Homo sapiens: one gene and its partners. The protein of the gene in region 2 purifies or fractionates together with the protein of the main gene of each other region. This does not show direct contact. Each region holds a gene or a part of one and is shown on either strand. Other genes may lie near its edges.

Region 1 (2,337 bases), on a different chromosome or scaffold from region 2:
ATGCCAGGCCTCCTTGCAGGGTTTTCTATGCCCTTGATATCTGTCTCCCTGTCAACCTGGGACCTTGCTGTAAGTCTTGATAGGACAGGGAGAAGAGGGAGGCCCTACCGAGGCTCGAGGCTTCAGTGAAGGGTGACAGCAGTGGGAGTGTGGTACAGCCTCTGGAAGGACACAGTGTTCTCCCCGCCCCTTGTCTGGGAGCCAGGACTGTACCCTCCGAAGCCAGACATCACTGCCAACATATCCCCCTTGCTGGTGCCCTGGCATCTCAGCACATGACACACACCCACACCTGCAGGCTGTGGTTCCGGCTTGGCCTGCTCCCCGTCCGGCTGCTGCCGCTGCCTCTCTCCAGACCTCGCTTAAGGACAGTCCCAAACTCAGCTGGGGCAGGTGTTGGCCTGAAAGTCCTCCCCCAGCCTCTGCTGGCCAGCTTGGTGCTCACAGCTGCTGGGTAAGCTCTTGCCTAAGGAGCTGTGGGAAGCAGGGCTGATGCCCCAGCAACCTCTCCTCCCACTGTCTTTGAAGAAAGTAGCTTTAGACCGGCTAAAAGCTTTAATCCAGAGCCTGCCCTACTCTGATAGTACCAGAGTGGAGGGCAGAATACCAAATGTCCAGGAACCAAAGGCAGGGCTGTGGGGACCTGAAGAGCAGCACAGTGGGGCCCGTGCTGCTGTGGGGGAAACTGAGGCTGGGAGCCTCAGCAGAGACCGGTGTCAAGAGTCTCTGGGAACTGCATAGGCCTGAGGAACATGCATTTTCAAGTTGTCCATTGATGGTTTCGTACCTGAATTTCTCACCTTTTGTGAACATCTTGGGAGGGTGGGGGTTTTGCAGGGGTGTTAAAAGCAAGGCTTGGAGCCCCTTTCCTCCAGCTGGTGGCTCCTTCTCAGGGCCTGGCCTCATTCAGGCCACTTTGTAGAGAAATGCCCTGACCTCGCAGGAAGGATTTCCCCACCCCCAAGTGGAAGGAAGAGGACAGTGTGGGCACCAGAGGGCCCTGGAAACATCTTAGGGGAAGGAAAGGAAAAGGATAAATTTGGAGTGGGGGGTCTCTAAACAGATTGCCTGGATTCCGTTCTTTCCTGGGGTTCTACAGCTGCCTAAGCCCTCACCTTGGGGGAGGATCAAAGGGAATAAAGAGAACTCTTGGCTGAGTCTTTGTGCTTCTGTTCTGTCCTGAAGGACACGTGAGGAGCCAGAAACATCTGGCAGCCTCTGGTCCTTAGTTCAGATACAACATCCATGAAGCTGCCAGGTGTGAGGAGAGTTCCAGTGGGCATCACCTTCCTGCACAAACCTAGTCCTGATGGCTGCGAAGAGAAGCCGAGGGGACAAGGAACAGAAGCCACCAAGGGCTGTGGACTGTTGCTTGTGGGCACAGGGCAATGCGGACAGGCCACTGGCTGTGGGCCTGTAGGTCTCTGCACAGTTGCTGAGGCTGGTGCTGACTGCCTGCAGGGTCCTCTCAAGGCCTTACATACGGACACTGATCAAGGCCAGTTTGCCACAGCAGCTGCCCCTGCCAGCCATGCTCAGGCCCTGCAGCTGGCTGTCCAGACACTGATTTGCTGACAGTGGAATGTGAACTCTCTCAAGTCTACCCTGGCCTTCAAGCATGACATCCTTGCCTTGACCGCTGTCCGGAACTGTCCAGTTTCTGCAGCACTGTGCATGGGTTTTGGTGGCTGGGACAGCCACGTGGAGGATTCCCTCAGTGGCCTCCTTAGTGCCATTTGGGCTAGCCAGGGAAGGCTGGAAGGCGCTGCTGGATAAGGCTGGGCTCTGGGGTGATGTTCCCCGAGTTGGTGGGATCTAGGGGTTGGGTCCTGGCCAGCCTGTCTAGTTGGCTTGCCCTGGCCGCACCTGCTCAGCCAGCTGGGCCTGGCAGTCCAGTAGGTCATCCCGGAGGCGGGCAATGTCCTGCGTGTGCTGGGCCAGCGTACGATTCAGCTGGTCCACATGGCTCCACAGGCCCTCTCTGGGCCTCAGTGGCTCAGTGGGCAAGCTGTCCAGGCCCGCGGCCAGCAGGCCCAGCCTCCTGCACGCACCCTCCACTTGTGCCACCCGCTGGTCAAAGTGTCCCACTGTGTGCTGAAGTTTCTGGGCTGTGTCCTGGCAGCGGCTCAGCCCACTGGCCACCTTGGCCACACCAGCCTTGAGTTGCTCCAGCTCCCCACGCAGGTTCAGGACCTGCCTGTGGCCAGCCTGAAGCCTGGAGCCTTGGCTGCTGACCTGCTCCTGGATGGCCTGGACTTCGGCTTCCACCTTGCGTTCCCGCTCATCCAGGGACGTGTTGGCAGCCAAGAAGGCATCAGAGTACTGGCTGACAGAGTC
Region 2 (3,161 bases):
CTGGAATTAGGAAAATCTTTAAAAGCATTTAAAATGTTGCTGTGGACACCTGCCTATGTAAAGATTAAAACAAATATAAAATCTAGAATTTTTTAAGATAAAATAAGGTAACTACCTCAAGATAGAACTGGCCCTGTTCTTAATAGAGAGACCGAGAGAGAGAGAGAGAGAGACAGACAGACAGACAGAAATAAGTGTCTATGATTTGAATGTGTTTCCCAAAGATCATATGTTGGAAACTTAACATGCAATACAACAGTGATGAGAAGTGGGACTTTGAAGAACTGATTAGTTCACAAGGGCTCTGCTCTCACAAATTAATTAATGCTATTATCATAGGAGTGGGCTTACTGTTGCAAGGGTGAGTTTGTTTTGACTGAGTTTGACCCTCTCTTGTGTATTCTTTTTTGCTCTTCCACCATGGGATGATGAAACAAGAAGGCCCTAGCTTGACAGATGTTGGCCTCTCAATCTTGGACTTACAGCCTCCACAACTGTTAACCAAATAAATTTCTGTTCATTATAAATTACTTAGTCTGTGGTATTCCGCTATAGCAGCACAAAACAAACTAAGGCACTAGTTTAGTAATTTACATCCAACTGAACATGAGGATAGGGCAAATTATTGCTACTCCAAACCCTCATTAATATGAAAAATGCATATATAGTTGTCACACTTTTTTTAAAAATAATTACATTGAAGTAATAGGTCATGCCTGTAATCCCAGCACTTTGGGAGGCCAAGGCGAGTGGATCACTTGAGGTCAGGAGTTTGAGACCAACCTGGCCAACATGGTGAAAACCTGTCTCTACTAAAAATACAAAAATTAGCTGGGCATCGTGATGCTTGCCGGTAATCCCACCTACTTTGGGATGCTAAGGTATGAGCATCACTAGAACCCGGGAGGCAGAGGTTGCAGGGACCTGAGATTGTGCCACTGCACTCCAGCTCAGCAACAGTGTGAGAATCTGTCTAATAATAATAATAATAATAATAATAATAATAATAATAATATTCACATGGAAAATTAAGACCAAGTAATTCTTTGGGGCCCAAATGAAGAGAATACTTGCCTTTATTTTCTTTTTACTTTAGCCAGTGACAGTGATTACAGAATTTCAGAAAAAAAAAACTGAGGGTAAAATTTGATGTACTGTGAGGAACTAAAAGTTTCTTTCTCTAGTTGTGGAGGATGTTCCATGGCTTTCTTTACATGGTTTTTTTTTTTTTAATTAGCATGTTGTACATAAATTGAATCATTAATGGACAAGAGACACTGAATTAAACATACAGTTATTATCTTTAAATGTGAAGACACAATATGTCACTGTAAACATCAAGACATGGGAGTTTTGGAGGAGGAAATAAATTGATAGACACATATTGTTTTTCTCCACAAATGAGAAACCAAAGGTCCAAGAGAATACACAATGTGCTCAAGGTCATATGCTTAGAAGTTGTCAGAACTGAGATTTAAGTTGGGAGTGAGAAATGTTTGAGAAGAAAAAAATCTCTTCAAGAGTAGGGGGCTATTTAAGAGCAAACATATTTAAGCTTAACAAAATATTATCGTTTTGTAATATATTAAGCAAAATATTACCACTTGGACATGGCTGTTTTCATTCATTCTGCGAATTTGCTCCTGCATAAAAGGAAACACATTCTAAATTACTTAGACATCTTCTGGTACAACACATTTATCTTACATTGCACCAGAAGTATACATAACATCATTCATGAAATTTAGAATAGACTGTATTCTATGCCACAGTTAGCAAAAAATGTCAAAACACTTTTTATTTTCTAATGTCAGAAAAAAATTTTAGCTAAAGGCTAAGCTCACTATAGTTTGGAAAAATAAACAATTAGTAAGGTTCATACTCTGAGGAAAAATAATAACCTACCATTTCTCTAGGACTACATATTTTTCTATTTATGGCTATTTATTAATTATTTAAATTTTGTCTTTTGTGACTTTTAAGTAAAATATTATCAGATAGTGTTGGTAGAACACTCTCTCAGAATATATTTATGTTAAAAGAGAATCATGCATTATAAAAACATAACACATGAAGGAAATACTAAAATATTTTAGATTTAATAAATAATCTCACCTGGGCATGGGCAGCTTGCTAGGGAGGAGAAAACATTCTGTTTTAGTATTTTCATTTTATTTACTCATTAATAAGAAACATTTGCTGGGTACCTTCATTTGTTCAGGGACAATGTTAAATACTGGAGATACCACTGTAAAATACTACAAAATCTCTCAGGAGGACAAGTAGGTTCTAACAGTTGTGGAGGTTACAGACTAGCCATATCATATCTATGGTACTAAAATATATTATTCAGGTAATTTTCTAGATCAATAATGATGAATTCTATTGGGGTACTAATGTGTTTAAATTTATTTGGATACTATTTTAAACACAAGTTACCTGAAAATGGAAACTAGAGTAACAATTAGGGTCCATATTAAATTCATTACTGATTTTCATCTTCCTCTATTGATAACGATTAAAAATGCTAGCATGCAATTTTGCTGAACTAAAACCAAGCATTTCCCAAAGCCTTCATTACGTCAAATTTGTTTGTAGTTACTGAAAGGTTTTTATTGTCCTCCCAAAAGAAAGACTTTTATGTTACTCAAAAGGGTCAAAACCAGTGTTAAGCAGATTATGTGAGTTTTGACAGAAGCAAATCTGATGTTTAGCATTCCTGTTTCCTTTCCCAGAATCTATCCTGTTTCCTTAAATGGAAAGTTTATTTGACATATCTGTGATTTCACAGGTAAGCATATTTGTGAAATTCTCAACCAGGACATAATGTATCATCAGGGAGGTTAAAAGTGGATTTGCAGTAGAATGTAGTCACTTTCTCCCTGGTTAGTAAGTATGGATAATATATAGAACTTTAGTCCAGGAATAAAGAGAATGAGCATTGCCCGCAAATATGCCGGCAATCATACAAATAACTTGCCAATTATTGGTCAAGGCTAGAATAAATAATTTCTTAAGAAAAATAAAAATATATTTAGAAATGGCCCCAATTTAAAATTTAATATGTTTTAATTCTATAGTAGAATATGATTTTGTATTATAATGAATAAAATATTACCAGCTGAAGTTGGTTGTATTCGTTCAGTCTACAAAACTGTTCC
Region 3 (3,658 bases), on a different chromosome or scaffold from region 2:
ATGGAAAACTACAAAACACTGATTAAAAAAATGAAACAAGATCTAACTATATGAAGAGATAGACCATGTTCATGGATTGGAAAAATCAAAATCATTAAGGTGTCAATTTGATCCATAAATTCGGCACAATCTGAACCAAACACCCAGTCAGTGCTTCCGCCGAGGCTGACAAGCTGATTCTAGAATATACATGGGAGAGCAAAGGGATTAAAAAGCCAAAATCATCTGGAAAAGAACAGAGGTGGAGGACTCATGTTACCCAATTTCAAGACTTACTAAAAAGCTAATCAAGACCACATCAAGACAGCGCAGTATTGATTAAGGAAGAGCCGCAGAACTCAATGGAATGGAAGAGACGGCCCAGACACAGCCCCCCTGCCCCCGACCCGACACACAGAGTGAACAAATTCTGACAAAGGTTCAAAGGCAACTACACAGACAAAGAGCAGCCTTGGGCCGGGCGTGGTGGCTCACACCTGTCATCCCAGCACTTTGGGAGGCTGAGGCAGGAGGATCGCTTGAGCCCAGGAATTCCAGAGCAGCCTGGGCAACATAGTGAGACTCAGTCTCTACAAAATAAATAAAAAAACAAAGAAGAGTCTCTGTAACAATCATGTTGGAACAGATGGATGTCCACATGCAAAAAGATGGACCTGAACACACTTCACACCTTACACAAAAATTAACCAAAAAGGATCATAGACCTAAATGTAAAACATAAAAGCATAAGACTTCCAGATGGAAATATAGAAGAAAATCTATGTGACTTGGGTTTGGCAACAAGTTTTTAGATACAACACCAAAAGCATAATCTATGAAATTAGAAACTGTAAATTGAACTTTATCAAACTGAAAAACTTTTGATCTGCAAAAGCTACTTTTAACAGAATGAAAACACAAGCCGCAGATTGGAAGAAAATACTGGCAAATCACACATCTGATAAAGGATTTGTATCTAGAATATTTAAAGAACTTTTAAAATTCAATAATTAGAAAACAAACAACCCAATGTTAAAGGTGGGAAGAAAAAACCAGGCCACAAGGTCTGAACAGACATAGGAAGGTGTACGGATGGCAAATAACACGTGAAAAGATGCTCAACATCCTTCATCACTGCGGAAATGCCCATGAAAACCACAGCGTGCTGTCACCACACACACGTCACATGGCCGAAGTGCTTGAAAACGGACAGTGCCCAGGCCGGGCGCGGTGGCTCATGCCTGTAATCCCAGCGCTTTGGGAGGCCGAGGTGGGCAGATCACCTGAGGTCAGGAGTTCAAGACCAGCCTGGCCAATGTGGTGAAACCCCGTCTCTACTAAAAATACAAAAATTAGCTGGGCATAGTGGTGCACACCTGGAATCCCAGCTACTCGCAAGGCTGAGGCAGGAGAATTGCTTGAACCCAGGAGGCGGAGGTTGGAGTGAGCCGACACAGCGCCACTGCACTCCAGCCTCGGCGACAGAGTAAGACTGTCTCAAAAAAAAAACCAAAAAAACAAAACAAAAAAAACACGAACATGGACAGTGCCCAATGCTGCAGAAGGTTCGGGACAGCAGGAGTGCCCTCGCTGTGCCGGGGATGCTGTGGCCTACCACTGTGGATGGCAGACGGTGGCATCTGACCCAGATAATGAAGGGTTACCTTACAAATCAGCTACTGCACCTCTCAGGCCTTCAACCTGAAAGTGTGCTCGCACAGAAGCCTCATGCAGATGCTCATAGCAGCTCTGTTCATAGCCACTAAAAACTAGAAACAAGGAAGACATCCTTCACGGTGGAAGTGGATAAATAACCGGAGGTGCATTTGTGCAACAGAAAAATAATCAGAGATAAGAATGCAGCTGTTGGTTCAGGCAATAACATGGATGAATCTTAAGTGCATTTTGCTAAGCAAAAGAATCTAGACCCAACAGGCTATATACTGCGTGATTTCATTCGTATGTCACACTGGAAAAGGCAAAACCAGAGGGACGGGAGACAGACCCGGGCGTGCCAGGGGCTGGTGCAGGGGAAGTGGTCACTCCCATGCACGGGGGACTTGGGGCTGGAGCTGGGGTGATGGAGGCAAAGCCCACAGCACTGAGCATTACACGAGATGAACTTCAATGTGCACAAACTATTGGGGGAAGACCCGACCAGGAGGTTGGGGGATGCAGATAGAATACAGGCTCCACACGCACGGATGTGAAACAGAAACACACTGGCCAGAGGGCAGGAGCCGCCTAAGCAACTCCGGAAAATGTTCTGAGTGGAGACCGCAAGGCCAGAAGGAGCTGTACACAAACGCTGCACTCCAGGGCTTTCCCCCCCGGGCCTGGGTGGACAATTCTCGCACGTGCACCAGGGCTGAGCAGATGCTAGAGGAGTCAGGGGAGCCAGGTTCCCACTAGCAGAGAGGGAGGATTCAGATGGGCCAGCAGGGAAGACTGGAATACACCGTGTGCCAGGACGGGAGGATGGAATACACCATGTTCCAGGACGGAAGGCTGGAATACACCGTGTGCCAGGTGAGAGTCAGAGTCATCGGCATGGACCAGGTTGACCTTCGTATACTTACAGATGGATAGGTGGATACGACAGAGAAGCAATCAAATGTGTGAAATGAGATAGTGACACACAGAGCCTAGCTCTACCCAGGAAGAGGGCCAGCAGCTGTGACACCCCGGGAGCAACGGCCCTCCCAGTGCCCAGACTGAAGTTTCTATGCTCCCCTAAAAAGAACCAGGGCTCCTTGGAAACAACTCATTCTAGGGCTGGGGCAGAGAAACAGAAGCTGGGCCGGAAGCATCCCTGCGGGGAAGGAGGGGAAACCCACCAGTGGTCAAAGCTGGAGGAGCTGAGCAGCAAACTCACAGTGACAGCACTGGATCATAACCCAGACAAAGACTCACAGTGACAACACTGGATCACAACCCAGACACAGACTCACGGTGACAGCACGGGATCACGACCCAGACACAGACTCACGGTGACAGCACGGGATCACGACCCAGACACAGACTCACGGTGACAGCACGGGATCACGACCCAGACACAGACTCACGGTGACAGCACGGGATCACGACCCAGACACAGACTCACGGTGACAACACTGGATCACAACCCAGACACCATCTCATGGTGACAACACGGGATCACGACCCAGACACAGACTCACGGTGACAGCACGGGATCACGACCCAGACACAGACTCACGGTGACAACACGGGATCACGACCCAGACAGACTCACGGTGACAGCACGGGATCACGACCCAGACACAGACTCACGGTGACAGCACGGGATCACGACCCAGACACAGACTCACGGTGACAGCACGGGATCACGACCCAGACAGACTCACGGTGACAGCACGGGATCACGACCCAGACACAGACTCACGGTGACAGCACGGGATCACGACCCAGACACAGACTCACGGTGACAGCACGGGATCACGACCCAGACACAGACTCACGGTGACAACACGGGATCACGACCCAGACAGACTCACGGTGACAGCACGGGATCACGACCCAGACACAGACTCACGGTGACAGCACGGGATCACGACCCAGACACAGACTCACGGTGACAGCACGGGATCACGACCCAGACAGACTCACGGTGACAGCACGGGATCACGACCCAGACACAGACTCACGGTGACAGCACGGG

Evidence for each region.
Region 1: the proteins of CSN1S1 (region 2) and EMILIN3 purify together in Homo sapiens (affinity purification with mass spectrometry; 2 studies listed by BioGRID and IntAct, with this or other methods). This does not show direct contact.
Region 3: the proteins of CSN1S1 (region 2) and LMF1 purify together in Homo sapiens (affinity purification with mass spectrometry; one large-scale study listed by BioGRID and IntAct). This does not show direct contact.

Annotation. Positions count from the first base shown.
Region 1 is NC_000020.11:41,359,426-41,361,762, forward strand, and holds the end of EMILIN3 (EMILIN-3 precursor), read right to left. Parts: coding exon 1,843-2,337; 3' UTR 537-1,842; downstream 1-536.
Region 2 is NC_000004.12:69,941,018-69,944,178, reverse strand, and holds part of CSN1S1 (alpha-S1-casein isoform 1 precursor), read right to left. Parts: intron 3,161-3,161; coding exon 3,119-3,160; intron 2,134-3,118; coding exon 2,116-2,133; intron 1,644-2,115; coding exon 1,602-1,643; intron 1-1,601. UniProt on the Homo sapiens protein: Important role in the capacity of milk to transport calcium phosphate. Casoxin D acts as opioid antagonist and has vasorelaxing activity mediated by bradykinin B1 receptors.
Region 3 is NC_000016.10:957,407-961,064, forward strand, and holds part of LMF1 (lipase maturation factor 1), read right to left. Parts: intron 1-3,658. UniProt on the Homo sapiens protein: Involved in the maturation of specific proteins in the endoplasmic reticulum. Required for maturation and transport of active lipoprotein lipase (LPL) through the secretory pathway. Each LMF1 molecule chaperones 50 or more molecules of LPL.